4 linked regions of the Homo sapiens genome follow. The protein of the gene in region 1 purifies or fractionates together with the protein of each later gene. This does not show direct contact. Each region holds a gene or a part of one and is shown in the gene's direction. Other genes may lie near its edges.

What was found. Proteins that work in one complex are often made in the same cells at the same time.
Region 2: the proteins of SLC41A1 (region 1) and SNX19 purify together in Homo sapiens (affinity purification with mass spectrometry; one large-scale study listed by BioGRID and IntAct). This does not show direct contact.
Region 3: the proteins of SLC41A1 (region 1) and ACO2 purify together in Homo sapiens (affinity purification with mass spectrometry; one large-scale study listed by BioGRID and IntAct). This does not show direct contact.
Region 4: the proteins of SLC41A1 (region 1) and PGAM1 purify together in Homo sapiens (affinity purification with mass spectrometry; one large-scale study listed by BioGRID and IntAct). This does not show direct contact.

The regions. Positions count from the first base shown.
Region 1 is NC_000001.11:205,795,600-205,800,549, reverse strand, and holds part of SLC41A1 (solute carrier family 41 member 1), read left to right. Parts: intron 1-719; coding exon 720-791; intron 792-1,448; coding exon 1,449-1,593; intron 1,594-1,734; coding exon 1,735-1,881; intron 1,882-2,498; coding exon 2,499-2,646; intron 2,647-3,546; coding exon 3,547-3,626; intron 3,627-4,950. UniProt on the Homo sapiens protein: Na(+)/Mg(2+) ion exchanger that acts as a predominant Mg(2+) efflux system at the plasma membrane.
Region 2 is NC_000011.10:130,913,680-130,917,974, reverse strand, and holds the start of SNX19 (sorting nexin-19), read left to right. Parts: upstream 1-1,495; 5' UTR 1,496-2,035; coding exon 2,036-3,709; intron 3,710-4,295. UniProt on the Homo sapiens protein: Plays a role in intracellular vesicle trafficking and exocytosis. May play a role in maintaining insulin-containing dense core vesicles in pancreatic beta-cells and in preventing their degradation. May play a role in insulin secretion.
Region 3 is NC_000022.11:41,510,525-41,514,116, forward strand, and holds part of ACO2 (aconitate hydratase, mitochondrial precursor), read left to right. Parts: intron 1-1,351; coding exon 1,352-1,444; intron 1,445-3,592. UniProt on the Homo sapiens protein: Catalyzes the isomerization of citrate to isocitrate via cis-aconitate.
Region 4 is NC_000010.11:97,431,476-97,433,944, forward strand, and holds the end of PGAM1 (phosphoglycerate mutase 1), read left to right. Parts: intron 1-879; coding exon 880-1,049; 3' UTR 1,050-1,969; downstream 1,970-2,469. UniProt on the Homo sapiens protein: Catalyzes the interconversion of 2-phosphoglycerate and 3-phosphoglyceratea crucial step in glycolysis, by using 2,3-bisphosphoglycerate. Also catalyzes the interconversion of (2R)-2,3-bisphosphoglycerate and (2R)-3-phospho-glyceroyl phosphate.

The DNA.
Region 1 (4,950 bases):
CAGCACCCCCAGCCCCCCGGCCATCCCATTCCCTTTACCCATGGCAGCTTGCTCTTCTTTAAGGAAACAGACAGAGAGGAGCTGCTCGTCATTCCTACCTCCCACAGTTGTGAGCCGTGACGATTCCGGGCCTGAACAGATACAGGGCCCTGGGCTGGAGGTGGGAGATGATAAAACTCAGGAGGCCAGGGATCTCCCTGCAGGGTCAAGAGTCTAGAGAAGGTGACAGACAGAAGTGGCATCCAAGTTAACCCACCCTGACTTGCCATACCCGACTTCTGGCCCATGCCACCCACTCCTTCCCAAATACTCTTGGAGCCTCAGTCCTGCACCAGCAGCTGACCTTTCCTTCCCTGGGATCGCAGGCTGGCTTCAGAGTCAGGGACTGGGTTGTTCTGACCCATGCAGGAATGGGCTGCCCAGATAAGCAGGGCAAAGGATAGAATTTGCCTCTGCTCAGCTGGTGTCCTGAGAGGAAGAGAGGCGACTGCCTAGGGGACCCCCTTCCAACCCCCCACCCAGCTGCAGGAGCCCAGCTTTAGCTCCTTCCCTTTCACCTCAGTTTCCCTGATCCTGCTTCACCTTTCCGGGACTGTCAGGTCCTGCTCTCAGAGTCTTAGGCCACATGTACTGCCTCATGATCTAGGCAGGAGCCTAATGGATGGAGCTTCAGGCCTTTTCCAGCCTGAAGCTCCAGCCCCTTGCCCTCCCTTTCCCAGGCCAACATTGGACACATGGACACACCCAAGGAGCTCTGGCGGATGATCACTGGGAACATGGCCCTCATCCAGGTAAGAAGGCAGGGACCAGAGAGGGTGGGCTAAGCTTCCCCTTAGTCAGGAATCTCTGAAAGGCTTAGGTCAGCCCCAGCAGGCTCCTGAGTGAATCTCCAGTATCCCACTGAGCTGGCTTCCCCCAGAGTAGCTCTAGGAGGTAACTAGGTTACCCAGGAAAACGCCCAAGATGAGGAGGGCCCAGCATCACCCATTCTGGTTCTCAGTTCTTGGTGGTGCACGTGCCTTTGAGTCCCAGCAGATCCTGGCAATATGAGCAGACTCAGGAGTGCTGAGATGTCCTGTGCCACTGCTGTCCCATCTCCCCATGAGACCACACAGGTTCAGACTGGGAGCCTTCCCCCTTGAGGCCCAGGCCTTGACTCTGGGTGGAAGTCTCCGGCTCTGTTGAACCTCACTCCCATCCCCAGAGGCACACTCATTCAGCCAGTAACATGTTCTGGGCTCCTGCAGAGTGCACTGCCCAGTACTAGTGGCTGGTGTGAACCTAAATAAATAAAGACATCCTTCCAGCCTGGGAGGACTGGACCATGCAGTCCAGCCTGCCTCCTGGGGCTACTGCCAGCCAGGAAGAGGTCTGCCCAGATGCTTATGACCTCAGCTTAGGAAGCCCACTGCTCTCAGGGCTTTCTGAGTTACCACTCCTGTCCCCAGGTGCAGGCCACGGTGGTGGGCTTCCTGGCGTCCATCGCAGCCGTCGTCTTTGGCTGGATCCCTGATGGCCACTTCAGTATTCCGCACGCCTTCCTGCTCTGTGCTAGCAGCGTGGCCACAGCCTTCATTGCCTCCCTGGTACTGGGTAAGAAAGGGAGGGCATAGAGGAGTAAGGAGTGCCGCCCCAGAGAACACTGCACCTGGCACTTCCACTCTCTCTTTTTGTTTGTTGAGACTCCTTTATCTCTTCTCACCCTGCCTGCCCCTCCTCCCACTTGCTCACCAGGTATGATCATGATTGGAGTCATCATTGGCTCTCGCAAGATTGGGATCAACCCAGACAACGTGGCCACACCCATTGCTGCCAGCCTGGGCGACCTCATCACCTTGGCGCTGCTCTCAGGCATCAGCTGGGGACTCTACCTGGAACTGAGTGAGCCACCAAGAGTGTGGCTTCTTGGAGTCCTGGGTGGGGTTGGGAGAGATGGTAGTAGTTTGCAAATGTGCAAGAGTTTCTTCTGTGTTCTTAAACTATTTGGTTTGAACACAGGTTGTAATAATTCCTGATCTTAGAGATTTGAAGCTAAGTACTGATCTCAAATTCAAGCAGGCATCAGGGGCAGGGGAAAAGTATCAGAAGTATATTCCTGTGTGGTCCTGCAGATTCTTACTTCTCTTGGAGGGATGAGGTGGAAAGGGTAAAGGAAAGGAACCAGAGGCTTAGATCTGCTTGCAAAATGAAGAAGCGGGTGGGAGATGGTGTTTTCTGGGCTCCAATCAAGAGACCTAGAGTCTCTGTCCTCTGGTCTCTGTCCCTAATTGGCTCAGTGCCTGGCTAGCTCTCTCCCTTGGTTTCCTCATCCATAAAATGGAAAAGGCTTGTCCCACCTACCTCCTGAGCTGCCAGTGAAGATCAAATGGGATAATGTGTTTACTGGCATTTAGTGTAGTCTTGCTATTGATCTGTTGGGACATTTTCAGGCTGAGCCAGGGAGAAACTTAGGGTAGGGAAACACAGTGCTTATCTCCTTCTGACCTCTGCCCTCTCAGATCACTGGCGATACATCTACCCACTGGTGTGTGCTTTCTTTGTGGCCCTGCTGCCTGTCTGGGTGGTGCTGGCCCGACGAAGTCCAGCCACAAGGGAGGTGTTGTACTCGGGCTGGGAGCCTGTTATCATTGCCATGGCCATCAGCAGGTAGGCTGGGGCCCTGAGTATCCACTCCTACCCCACTCCAACCCTTCCACAGACTTCTTTTTAAACCCTGGAGAGATGGGGTGGGGGTCAGACCCTAGAAATGTGTTCATTAGTGTTTCAGTCACATGTCCTTCTGTTGAAAATGACAGAAACCATCTGAACTGGGTTTCATTCCAAGGCAGAATGTATTGGCCTGGAGAACCAAAAAGGCACAGCTGAATTCAGCGACATACCTAAGATCAGGGCCCCAGTACTCTGTGACTCTTAGCTCTGCTCTTCTCTGTCATGGCCTACAGCCCAGGTTTATGCTTTTCTTACTCCTACAAATTCCAGTGGGAAGAGAGATTCTTCCCCCAACAGTTCCACAAAGTCCCAGAATAGAGTTCCACTGCTTCTCATCTGGTGACATGATTATCTCCAAACCAGTCAGCGTGGCCTTGGGGCTGCAATCCTCTGATTGGATGGACCTGGAGCCTAGCTATCATTGAGGCATTGTCACCTGAGCCACAGTCACTGAGCTTGAGAGAGGTGGTTCCCTGTGGAGGAGCCCAGTGCTATCACCAGAAAGGGAAGTAAATGCTGAGTGGGCAGAACAACAGAGGTCCTCAGAGGCAGATAGTCCTGCAGGCTGCTCCTCCGGCCAACTTAGAGGGCAGGTACAGGAGGTGGTTGCCTGACCCAGTACCACCAGCTTGTTCTGGAGTCACTGTGCCCAGTCAGAATGTTATGAGCAGCACCTAATCCTGTCAAGGGAGGCAAGGACTGGATGGTGAGGAACTCCTGAGAGCCATGGTGCTTCCCTTCATCTCCAAGGATAGGTGGGCCTGGACCTCTCATCCCAGAGACTAAGGCAGAACCCTTCAGTGGTCTTTGCGTCATTTTGTCTTTATGTCTCTATAGTGTGGGAGGCCTCATCTTGGACAAGACTGTCTCAGACCCCAACTTTGCTGGGATGGCTGTCTTCACGCCTGTGATTAATGGTGAGGTCTGGGCATCAGCTATCAGAGGGCAGGGCTGGGGGAAGGAAAGGGACAGGAGAAGAGGACTTAAGGGGTTGGTTTCTGTATCAGTCAGGGTTCCAGCAGACGAGAATCTAGCTCAGATGGTTCAAGACCTTAATGAAGGGACTGCTTACAGAGGTGGGAGCAGAGTAAAAGGACAGATAAGGGATGTTGAGGCACCGAGAGATTAGCAGCAATGGGAAGCCTCTACTCCTAAAGGGTCAAGGGGAGTATCATAGTCCATTATCTGTTGCTAGAACAGAATACTTGAAACTGGCTAATTTATAACGAAAAGAAGTTTATTTAGCTCACAGTTCTGGAAGCTGGGAAGTTCAAGATTGAGCAGCTGCTTCTAGTGAGGGCCTCATGCTGCATCCAAACATCCAAATGGAGAAACAGAAGGAAAACTGGGCATGTGCAAAATGGGCAAAACAAGAGAGGCAAACCTCGCTTTATGACAACCCACTCTCATGGGAACTATACCTTTCCCAAGAAAGACATTAATCCATCTTAATAACCTATTCACTCTTAAAGGCACCACCTCCCACCACCACATTTGGGGACCAAGCCACAACATGAGTTTTGTTGGGGACAAACTATATTCAAACCATAGTAACGAGGGAATAGCATTATAGGAGTCCAGTGAAAGCTCTGTCTTTGCCCCCAACATGGGGAAGCCAATGCTGAAAAGCAGGGAGGGATTGGGAAAGAAATACCTGATCTCTCTCTCCACCTGCCCTCTGGTTGCCTGCTGTTGCCTCCCACTGAACAAACAGTGGAAGCAGCCAGCAAGGGAGACTGGGTAATGCAGTCTGTGGAGACCAGTCCCCCAGAGCTCAGAGCAAGGCTGAGAAGAGCAGGGAGCAGGTTGGGATGTGAGGGCAACAGAGAAATCAGCACAGGTCCTGGCGGAGATACCAGATTCCAGAGTTTGGAGCTCAAACCTGATCCTTGAAACTGGTTACCAGAATCAGCATATGACCATAGGATGCCTGGGTCTGCTCAGAGCATTGGAGAGGAGGTGAGGCGGTGAGGCAAGGCAGGGCTTCATCCCCTCAGCTGTGTAGGAAGGCAGGTGCCCATGCTCTACTGGTGGAGAAGTCAGGCTCTCTGAGTCTGCAGATCTGCACGTATCCTTTCCGGCACTGTCACAGCTTTGCCAGGGGAACATGGAACTGCTGCATCTCCATAGAGGGGAGGATGGGGGAGGCTGGAAGATGCACTGGAAGCAGGGGTCTTTGTCTTCCTTCTTAGTGCCTTACTCTTCTTTTGGGGACTGGTGAATGGGTGATGCCCACATAGA
Region 2 (4,295 bases), on another chromosome or scaffold:
ACCGTGAAACCGTGGATTCACATTCTGCCATCTCACGGGAGTGCCCAGTCTGCTTAGTGGACACTGATCCTAAATCAAACCATTTGCTTTAGAAGTGATGAATCGTAAACTACGGGTCACATCTAAATGATGGCTTCTTTCGTATTCAAAGGAAGTCTCTGCCCCAACAGCAGCAATGGACGAGACAGGAAGCTGCAACGCACTTCTTGTTGGCAGAGTTTTGGGTTGGGATTTGTTTGAAGATTCCTTTAAACATCTAGGGAGTAGTCCATGATGATGAAAGACTGCTCACAGCACAGAGAAGGTGGACGAAGGGCAACCATGAGCAGCTCTGTGCAAACGATGCGAATCCTATGCCTAAATGGAAAGGAGACCCACCCTGCGGGCACAGCTCCTAGGGCCCAAGGTGGACATGGAAGCTGGCTTCACGCAAAACTGACACTAACACTTTTGACACCTGGTCAGTGCTTCCGGTATTTTGTCTTCCTATAGGTTCCTGTGTAGACAAGTGAAGTCTAATTTGCTAAAACCAAAAACAATCCAACATAGAGCATATTCCAAAGCAAATATATTACAGGATTATCTGAAAGGACACCTCTATCTCTGCTTTCCTTTTCTATGTTTTTGGGGAGGATAAGGCGAGAAGAGATAGAGGGAAATAGAAACCCTCATCCTTGAAGACTCAGCAGAAAGGCACCTTTTCTGTGAGCTTCTCCTTAACCATTGCAACCCACAGTGATCTCTCCTTCCCCTGAATTCCTATAAGATTTTGTATTTTACTATATCGCACGCTGACTGGCATTACTAGATAGCCAATCGCGTTCAAAGCGCTGGCATCCCCAGTTAGCAGGAGGTCCTGGAGGACAAGGTCTGCTTCTATTCGTCCACGCTGCCTCTCACATTGAAGACAGCAGATGCTCAAAATATTTGATTGTTTGTGTAATGCCACCAGCAAATAACCCTCAATCACAAATTTGATTTTGTGATACAGTATATGAAATGTACAACATAAATCTATCTCTGTATCGTTTCATGCCTTATATTCTGCAATTCCTGACAACAAATGAGGGTCTTTGTGCTGGGGACGCGGGGTACCGGCTCTAGGGGAAACCGGATAAATGTTAAGACACATCAGGCCAATGAAACTTCGCCTCCATGAAATTAAAATAAACCGGATTATTGACAGCGTGCCTAAGCAGTAAAGGACAGGCTTCATTTAATAACCAGAACTAGGACGCGTTTTAAAGCGCCTGGAAGTCTGGGTCTTAGCGGTGATTGCTGCGGCGGCTGTTTCGTGGCACTTCGGAAATCTGCGCCAGCTCTTGGCGAGCACGCGCCCCGTGCGCGCTCAGGCTCACGCTCAGGCTCAGAGACTACCTCGCGCAGGGCCGTCAGGGCGGCTCCTCGCCAGCAGAGGGCGCCGGGCAGCGCCGCTCCTCGGGGCGCGCGCGGACGCTCTCCCAGCATGCCTCGCTCCCGTCGACGTCGACCCGGAAGCTGTCGCCGGCGGCCGGCCGGCGGTCAGCCTTCACACAGGCCCGGCTGCGGAGCGCAGTCGCCCAGGTTTACGGCGGCAGAGGGCCGAGGCTCCCGGAGAGGACCGCGATGAGTCCACTTCAGGTCGGGGCTGAGTGTGGGCGCGCGGTTCCCGGCGGCGTGTGACCCAGTCTTCGCCGGCCGCTGCCCGCTGCGTGTGTAAGTGTCCGTGGGCCCCAGGGCCTTGCAGCGCCCGCCCCGAGGCCCCGAAGAGGCCTTCCGCCTGGGGCAGTGTGAAGGCCACAGAGTTTTCCTCCAAAGCCACACCTCAGCTGGAAGGGGCGAGTTGGAGGGCTCTGTTAGTGGTAGCCATGGGGAGACGCGGAGCTGCAGCTGTCGCTTTGCAGTGCCTGTAGGACTTTGAGGGCCTGGAGCCCCGGTTCCCTGAACAGCACCCAGATCGCCCCATATCTGAGACACAGTTCATGCCCCCCTTCCCTAACTCTGAAGTAAAATCTTGAGGGCTGTCATCTGGGGAAGCCACCTTGTCCGTTCAGCCATGAAGACAGAAACAGTGCCACCGTTCCAGGAAACTCCAGCTGGATCGAGCTGTCACCTCAATAACCTGTTGAGTAGCCGGAAGCTGATGGCTGTGGGGGTCTTGCTTGGCTGGCTCCTGGTCATACACCTTCTGGTCAACGTGTGGCTGCTGTGCCTTCTGTCGGCATTGCTAGTGGTGCTGGGAGGATGGCTGGGCTCCAGCCTCGCTGGAGTGGCTTCAGGTCGACTGCATCTGGAACGCTTCATCCCGTTGGCCACCTGTCCTCCATGCCCTGAGGCAGAAAGGCAGCTGGAACGGGAGATCAACCGCACCATCCAGATGATTATTCGAGATTTTGTGTTATCTTGGTACCGTTCCGTGAGCCAGGAGCCAGCCTTTGAGGAAGAAATGGAGGCAGCCATGAAAGGGTTGGTCCAGGAGCTTCGGAGAAGGATGAGCGTGATGGACAGTCATGCTGTTGCCCAGAGTGTTCTGACTCTCTGCGGTTGTCACCTGCAGAGCTACATTCAGGCAAAGGAGGCCACTGCAGGGAAGAATGGTCCAGTTGAGCCTTCCCACCTCTGGGAGGCTTACTGCCGGGCGACTGCCCCACATCCTGCTGTGCACAGCCCCAGTGCTGAAGTCACCTATACGCGTGGCGTTGTGAATTTGTTGCTTCAAGGGCTGGTGCCCAAGCCCCACTTGGAGACTCGTACCGGACGCCATGTAGTGGTCGAACTCATCACATGCAATGTAATCTTACCACTGATCAGCAGGCTGTCAGATCCTGACTGGATCCACCTTGTACTCGTGGGTATCTTTTCCAAGGCCAGAGATCCAGCACCCTGCCCAGCCAGTGCCCCCGAACAGCCCTCAGTGCCGACATCTCTGCCACTGATTGCTGAGGTAGAGCAGCTTCCAGAAGGGAGAGCTTCTCCAGTAGCAGCCCCAGTATTCCTAAGTTACAGTGAGCCAGAGGGTTCTGCAGGCCCCTCTCCAGAGGTTGAAGAAGGCCACGAAGCTGTAGAGGGAGATTTGGGTGGGATGTGTGAAGAAAGAAAAGTAGGAAACAACTCATCTCATTTCCTACAGCCAAATGTTCGAGGTCCCCTGTTCTTATGTGAAGACTCAGAGCTGGAGTCTCCGCTGTCTGAACTGGGCAAAGAAACCATCATGCTCATGACTCCAGGCAGCTTTCTCTCTGACAGGATTCAGGATGCCCTGTGTGCCCTAGAGAGTTCCCAGGCTCTGGAACCCAAAGATGGTGAGGCATCTGAAGGAGCAGAGGCTGAGGAGGGTCCAGGGACAGAAACAGAGACAGGCCTGCCGGTCTCCACACTGAATTCCTGCCCAGAGATCCATATTGACACAGCAGACAAGGAGATAGAACAAGGAGATGTTACCGCCTCTGTTACAGCTTTGCTGGAGGGGCCAGAAAAGACCTGCCCCTCACGGCCGTCATGCTTAGAGAAGGATCTCACCAATGATGTGAGCTCCCTTGATCCTACTCTGCCACCAGTTCTGCTTTCCTCCTCTCCACCTGGTCCTCTCAGCTCAGCCACCTTCAGCTTTGAGCCCCTAAGCAGTCCCGATGGTCCAGTTATCATCCAGAACCTTCGTATCACTGGCACCATTACAGCCCGAGAGCACAGTGGCACTGGATTCCACCCATACACACTCTATACTGTGAAGGTAACAGGATTAAAGCTGTGGGTGCTCACCCGGGCTAGGAGTGGGTTTGGAAAGCAGTCATGAAGCAAATGTTCTTGGGGGAGAGATGCTGTTAGTTTGAAGTGGTTCTTTCAATAGGCATCTATCTCTGTGAATGGTCTGAAGCTAATATGTAAGGCAGAGTAGCGTTTATCCTGTACTCACACAAGCAATCCTGGAACCTCAGGGCTGCTAGAATGCTGAGGGTTATATTTTCAGTGGTTCCCAAACTTGGCTGCACCTCAAAATCACTTGAGCTGCCTTTCAGATATACAGATTCTGACAGACTCTGTTGGATTCTGTATGAGAATTTCTAAGGAGGGGGTCCCTGGATTCTGTATTTTATTTATTTTCAAATAGAACTCTCCAGATAACATAGAGTCAGCCTGTCCTAAGGCCATCTTGGGGAATTGCCTCTCTAATCCAACCAACCCTCTTCATGTTATCTCTTGTCAAGTTGTTCCCAAGTCTGCTTACACACCTCCAAGAGTCAAAAACTTGCTATCTTCTGAGATAGACATAGGTAAATAACCTACCTTCCTAAAACAAAGTACAAAATGTACCAGTA
Region 3 (3,592 bases), on another chromosome or scaffold:
GTTTGAGTGTATCTCATCAAGGGTCCGAGGGCACTGGCTGAGGTCCCTTCTCTGAAGCATCGCTCTCCCATGCCGGAGGCTGGCAGGTCCCATTTCCTAGTTCCTCCTTTGAGACTCAGTAGAGTCCACTAGAATCCCACCGTTTTGTTACTGGGGTCAGTCTCACTGACCCCACACAGGGACCTCCCATGTCTTCCAGATAAACCCTGGCCTCACATCTGCTGTGCAGTGGGCCCTTCCCTGTCCCTCAAGGAAGCTTCCTTCAGATTATAGGCAGGATGGCTACAGCCCGTGTCATCATTTCGTTTGGCTGAAACCTCCTTTTCAGAACAGTGGTCCCTTCGACAGCCTTCCATTTGGGCCCATCAAACACATTACCAAGAATTCAGCACTTCCGACAGTCAGACACCAGTCCAGGGGGCTCTCTCAGGTGTCGTCTAAGCCTGGGATCTCCAGCAAGTTATTTCAAAAAAAGCCTCTGGGGTTTTTGTTTTGTTTTGAGGCAGGGTCTTGCCCTGTCACTCAGGCTGGAGTGTAGTGGTGCGATCTCGGCTCATTGCAGCCTTGAACTCCTGGGCTCAAGTGATCTTCCTGCCTCGGCCTGCAAGTAGCTGGGACCGCAGGTGCACAGCTAATTTTTATTTATTTTATTCTTATTTTTATTTTTTGAGACAGTCTCGCTCTGTCTTGTAGGCTGGAGTGCAGTGGCACGATCTCGGCTCATTGCATCCTTGTCTCCCAGGTTCAACCAATTCTTGTGCCTCAGCCTCCCGAGTAACTGGAATTACAGGTGTGCACTACCATGCCTGGCTAATTTTTGTATTTTTAGTAGAGACAGGGTTTCGCCATGTTGGCCAGGCTGGTCTTGAACTCCTGACCTCAAGTGATCTGCCTGCCTCAGCCTCCCAAAGTGTTGGGATTACAGGCGTGAGCCACTGCACCCAGCCACTGCGCCTAGGCCAGGGCCTGCCTCTGCACTGCTGGCCTCATCTGGGGACTTGAGTGCCACAGGCACTCTTGGCAATTATTTAGACCAGTCCCTTCTCCAGATAAGGAAACTGAGACCCAGACCAGGGCAGGGACTTGTTCCAGACCCACCACCCTGGCCAGGTGTCACAGAACTGGGGCTCCATCTCTGCTCCCCTGTCCTTCTCTCTGACACTGCTAGTGGAGACTGGGCCAACATCCAAGCTCTTTGGAATTATTTTTAGAAGGTCTCTAAGAGAGGGCCTGTCTCCAGTGCCAGTATTTCAGAGTCAGAAGGGAGGCTGATGGGGTGGGGAGGGCTTGGTGAGGGTCACCTGGACACAAACCATGTTGCTAACGCCCAATTATTGATTTGTCTCAATAGGACATCAACCAGGAAGTTTATAATTTCCTGGCAACTGCAGGTGCCAAATATGGCGTGGGCTTCTGGAAGCCTGGATCTGGAATCATTCACCAGGTAAAGCTGGGCTCAGTCTGCCGTCCCAAGGGCCCAAGCCAGAGAAGTATGTTCCAGGCCTATGGGGGGAGGGGGTTTGAGGCCCAGGGGGGCTGAGGGGAACTGGATGACATATCCATCAGCTCTTATGCTCTTCCTCCTTTGTTTTGAAACTGATTTTCATTATGTCATTATACGTGCTCATTTTCTGGGTGAGAAGTTAAAATAATACCTCCTAACCACCCAGGTAACCAGCATTTTAAGTGCGACATGTTTCTTTCCACATTGTCTTCTGGGTGTGTACTCAAGCATCTCTATTCCCATAAACTCTCATACAGAACATGGTATTATTTTGTTTTTTTTCACAAGTGTCACCCCTTGTGGCATGCATCACTGACATTTGATGAGCCCATACTGTGTCTCAGGTACTAGGCTGAGCACTTGAAAGATATTTGCCATGCCCTGTGAGGTAGGTGCTTTTACTATCCACACCCTACAGAGGAGGCAGCTGAGGCACAGAGATGTTAACCTTCTTGCCCAGGGACACCTAGCTGGCTTACTGTGGAGCCAGGCCTGTGGGCAGGAGGGCTGGTCTGGAGCGAGTGCCCCATGCCACCGTGCTGCTCTGCCGCCTCCCTCGCCCCCAGAGCTCTTTCTGCTTCTGCACGTGGCGCTCCTCGGATTTCTTTTTGGCTCCTTCATGGTGTTCTGTAGGGTGAAGGTACCATAGGTCATGTGGCCATGTCAGCCGGGGGCTCCTCTGAGGTGTCCCAAGGATGGATCTTCTTTTGGTGGACAGTTGGACAGTTTTGTCTCTGGAAGTGCAAGTGTGAACGTGTATATCCTGGGGAGGTGGGTGCTTCCCTTTCTTCCAAGGGCACTGTTAGGGACCACTGACCTAGTTTGTGTCCATTTACATCCACCCTGTATGTATGAAACCTGCCTCTTCGCACCTTTGCAAGGTGGCCCTTCCCCCCACCTCCATCCCAGACCTCACTGTCCTGGCCTCCTCAGGATGTGCTGAGTCAGGCTGTAATCTGACGCCGCATGGGCTCCCAGCACCGCCCCGCTCTGAAACCAGAGCCAGCAGGGGATCACTCCTCTGCCCTGCCCAACCATCACTCTTGCCAGGAAGGGGCTGCGTGGAATGGCCGTTTGCAGCGGCCTGTGGGGACTAGAAAGCCCCTCTCTGCAGCAGGGTTAGGGAGTCAGGTGGACCCAGTCTTGGCCTTCTGTTACAAAGGGCACTGCAATGCAGGTGTCTCCCTTTCTACCTCAGTACAAATGCCCAGGCCTTTATGGCAGCTCCTGGGCCAAAGTTTGGAGCCGTGAGTGATGGCAGCTCACATCTGCCACCGGCTAGCTGCTAAGCATACAGCAGCTCGTGTGTTTGTTTCTTTAAAAAGAAAATGCCCAGGGGCCATGGGAGTACTTTGCAGCTTTACTTTCTTCCCGCCTTGATGTCACGTCTTCAGCAGCCTCAGTCCATTAGGTCCAACCCAAACCTGAACCCCTTTCCCTCTGGGAAGTGCCCTGGCCCCACTTGGCCCGCAGACCTTCCTCCACATCACAGCTTTCTGGTTCCTCTGTGGAGCCTCCCCGGCCCTCCCCGTGCCTGGCACAGTGGCTTCCAGTGGATCCTCTGTGGGATCTCTTCACATTATGTTCCAGCATCTGCCAAGTGCTTTCTGCACTGGATCATGTGCTCTGTGGGGACAGGGACTGTGGCTTATTTATTCCTCTCTAGCTCTGGGTTTGGGACCAGGTCAGTACAGAGCAGGTCCTTAATGTATGTGTGTGTTGTGTGGATGGATGGCTGAATTTCCAGGTGTAGTTCTAGGCATTAGTCCTTCTTCCCAGCCCTCACCCCCATCTGTCCAGCCACACCCACAGACCGGGGAGCTCACTGTCACGGCCAGCGTCATCGTGACATCTTCTGCAGTCCTCATGTCTGCCTGACCTCTCCCCCTGGATGTGGACCACAAGTGTCTACACCGTGTGGACCACAAGTGTCTACACCGTGTAGACCACCCCGAATTCTGTGTGCCCAGCCTTCGTGGATCCAACTTTTACAAGCTTGAGGCTCTTTAGGGATGCACTAGTCTTAAATCCTTGTACGTGGCAGCATTGGCCAGTTCTTCGCAGCCAGGTCTTCCCTCTGCATCCCCA
Region 4 (2,469 bases), on another chromosome or scaffold:
CTAGTGAAAATCCTCCTTAGCTTGCCAAGCACAGTGGCTCATGCCTGTAATTGCAACATTTTGGGAGGCCAAGGCAGGAGGACCACTTGAGGCCAGGAGTTTGAGACAGCCTGGGCAACATAGTAAGACTGCATCTCTACAAAATTTTAAAAGGCCAAGCACAGTGGTTCATGCCTGTACTATCAGCACCTTGGGAGGCCAGGAGTTCAAAACCAGCCTGAGCAACAAAGCAAGACCTTGTCTGTACAAAAGAAAAATGAAAAATTAGCTTGATGTGGTGATGCTCATCTGTAGTCCCAGCTACTCAGGAGGCTGAGGCGGGAGATCGCTTGAGCCCAGCAGTTTGAGGTTATAGTGAGGTATGATTGTGCCACTACATTCTAGCCTGGGTGAGAGAGTAAGACCTTGTCTCTTAAAAAAAAAAAAAAGGAAAACAAATATATATAAAAGAAAAAATTCTCCTTAGTCACAACCAGGCACAACTTTACACATGAATCTCAATTTGCATCTTCATCCCCGAGGGCCTAGAGGCCCACGTGTGCTGATTTTTGGTTGGATGGGCTGTACAGGGTATTTGAGATGTGTAGTCTTGCTTCACTGTGGGCTTCTAGATCCCACTTTGGTAGAGATATCTGGCCATATACCTTGCTGTAGTTTGTTGGTGGTCTATCTTGTATACCTTTTCTTGCTTTTCAGTTTAATGGCTGAGAAATAAGTATGGTGGGGGCCATTCCCTGGGTTCAGAACTACTATAAAGATCAGAAAGGGTGTCTTATTTTAATTTCTGTCAAAGTCCTTTATCACCTGGAGGACAAAGTAAACCTGGAGGGGTGATGTGGATTTATGTCTTGTGTGGCTGATGATGGTGGATGTTTTCAGGTCTCTCTGAAGAGGCTATCATGGAGCTGAACCTGCCGACTGGTATTCCCATTGTCTATGAATTGGACAAGAACTTGAAGCCTATCAAGCCCATGCAGTTTCTGGGGGATGAAGAGACGGTGCGCAAAGCCATGGAAGCTGTGGCTGCCCAGGGCAAGGCCAAGAAGTGAAGGCCGGCGGGGAGGATACTGTCCCCAGGAGCACCCTCCCTGCCCGTCTTGTCCCTCTGCCCCTCCCACCTGCACATGTCACACTGACCACATCTGTAGACATCTTGAGTTGTAGCTGCAGACGGGGACCAGTGGCTCCCATTTTCATTTTAGCCATTTTGTCGCCTGCACCCACTCCCTTCATACAATCTAGTCAGAATAGCAGTTCTAGAGCACAGGTTCTCAGTCTAAGCTATGGAAAAGCTCCCCTTATCCAACAGAGTTTAAAAGTAGTGACTTGGGTTTTTGCGAGTGCTTTGTTTACTAAGGACTTTGGGGAGGAACCATGCTAAGCCATGACCAGTGAGGAGAAGCAACAGAGCCTGTCTGTCCCCATGAGCGGAGTCTGTCCTCTGCTCTTCTGCAGTCAGGTCACTGCCTACTGCCTGGGGGCTCTAGTCATTCCAGTGGAAGACGAATGTAACCTGCGTGGTGATGTGACAACTGTTTCCTCCCTGACCCCAGAGGATCTGGCTCTAGGTTGGGATCAATCCTGAATTTCGTTATGTGTTAATTTACTTTTATTAAAAAAGTATAGTATATATAATACAAAACAATAACCCTTCTGGGGTTTCTTGTGGCGGTTGAAATAGTCCCACATGTGGTCATCAGAAAATAAGCCATTCCTCATACCAATATAGGATCAGCTCCTTGACCTCTGAGGGGCAGGAGTGCTTCCTGGTGTGTGTATTAGAATCCCTTCCTGCCTTGTTTCATGGCAGTGAAATGCCTCTTGGTCCTGTCCAAGTGTATCTTTCACTGATTTCTGAATCATGTTCTAGTTGCTTGACCCTGCCACATGGGTCCAGTGTTCATCTGAGCATAACTGTACTAAATCCTTTTTCCATATCAGTATAATAAAGGAGTGATGTGCAATAGCTTCTTGTGTGATGTGGAAGACCTTATCTGAGGAAACTTTAGCATTTAACTTGAAATGTCTCTCACTGCCCTAGTCCTTGTGTGGCAGTTTGTTTTAGGACATCCAGTCACAACTTTACACGGTTGGTCAAAAAATGACGCATCTCCTTGGGGTTTTCACGTCAGCCTGGTGAGCTGAGGTGGTGGTGGGAGGCCCTCCTGGCCAAGCCCTCCATTCACGTTGCCCCCTGCAGCTCTTGCTTGGTGCTCCCCTGATTGGAAAGTCACATTCTGAACTCCATTATATCCTCTTTAGAGTAAGTAAAGTCTGCTTTTTGTTTTTTCTTTTTGAGACAGCCTCGCTCCGTCGCCCATGCTTGAGTGCAGTGGCATGATCTCAGCTCACTGCAGCCTCCCCCTCCTGTGTTCAAGCAAGCCTCCCACCTCAGCCTCCTGAGTAGCTGGGACCACAGGCATGTGCCACCATGCTTGCTTAATTTCTGTATTTTTAGTAGAGACGGGG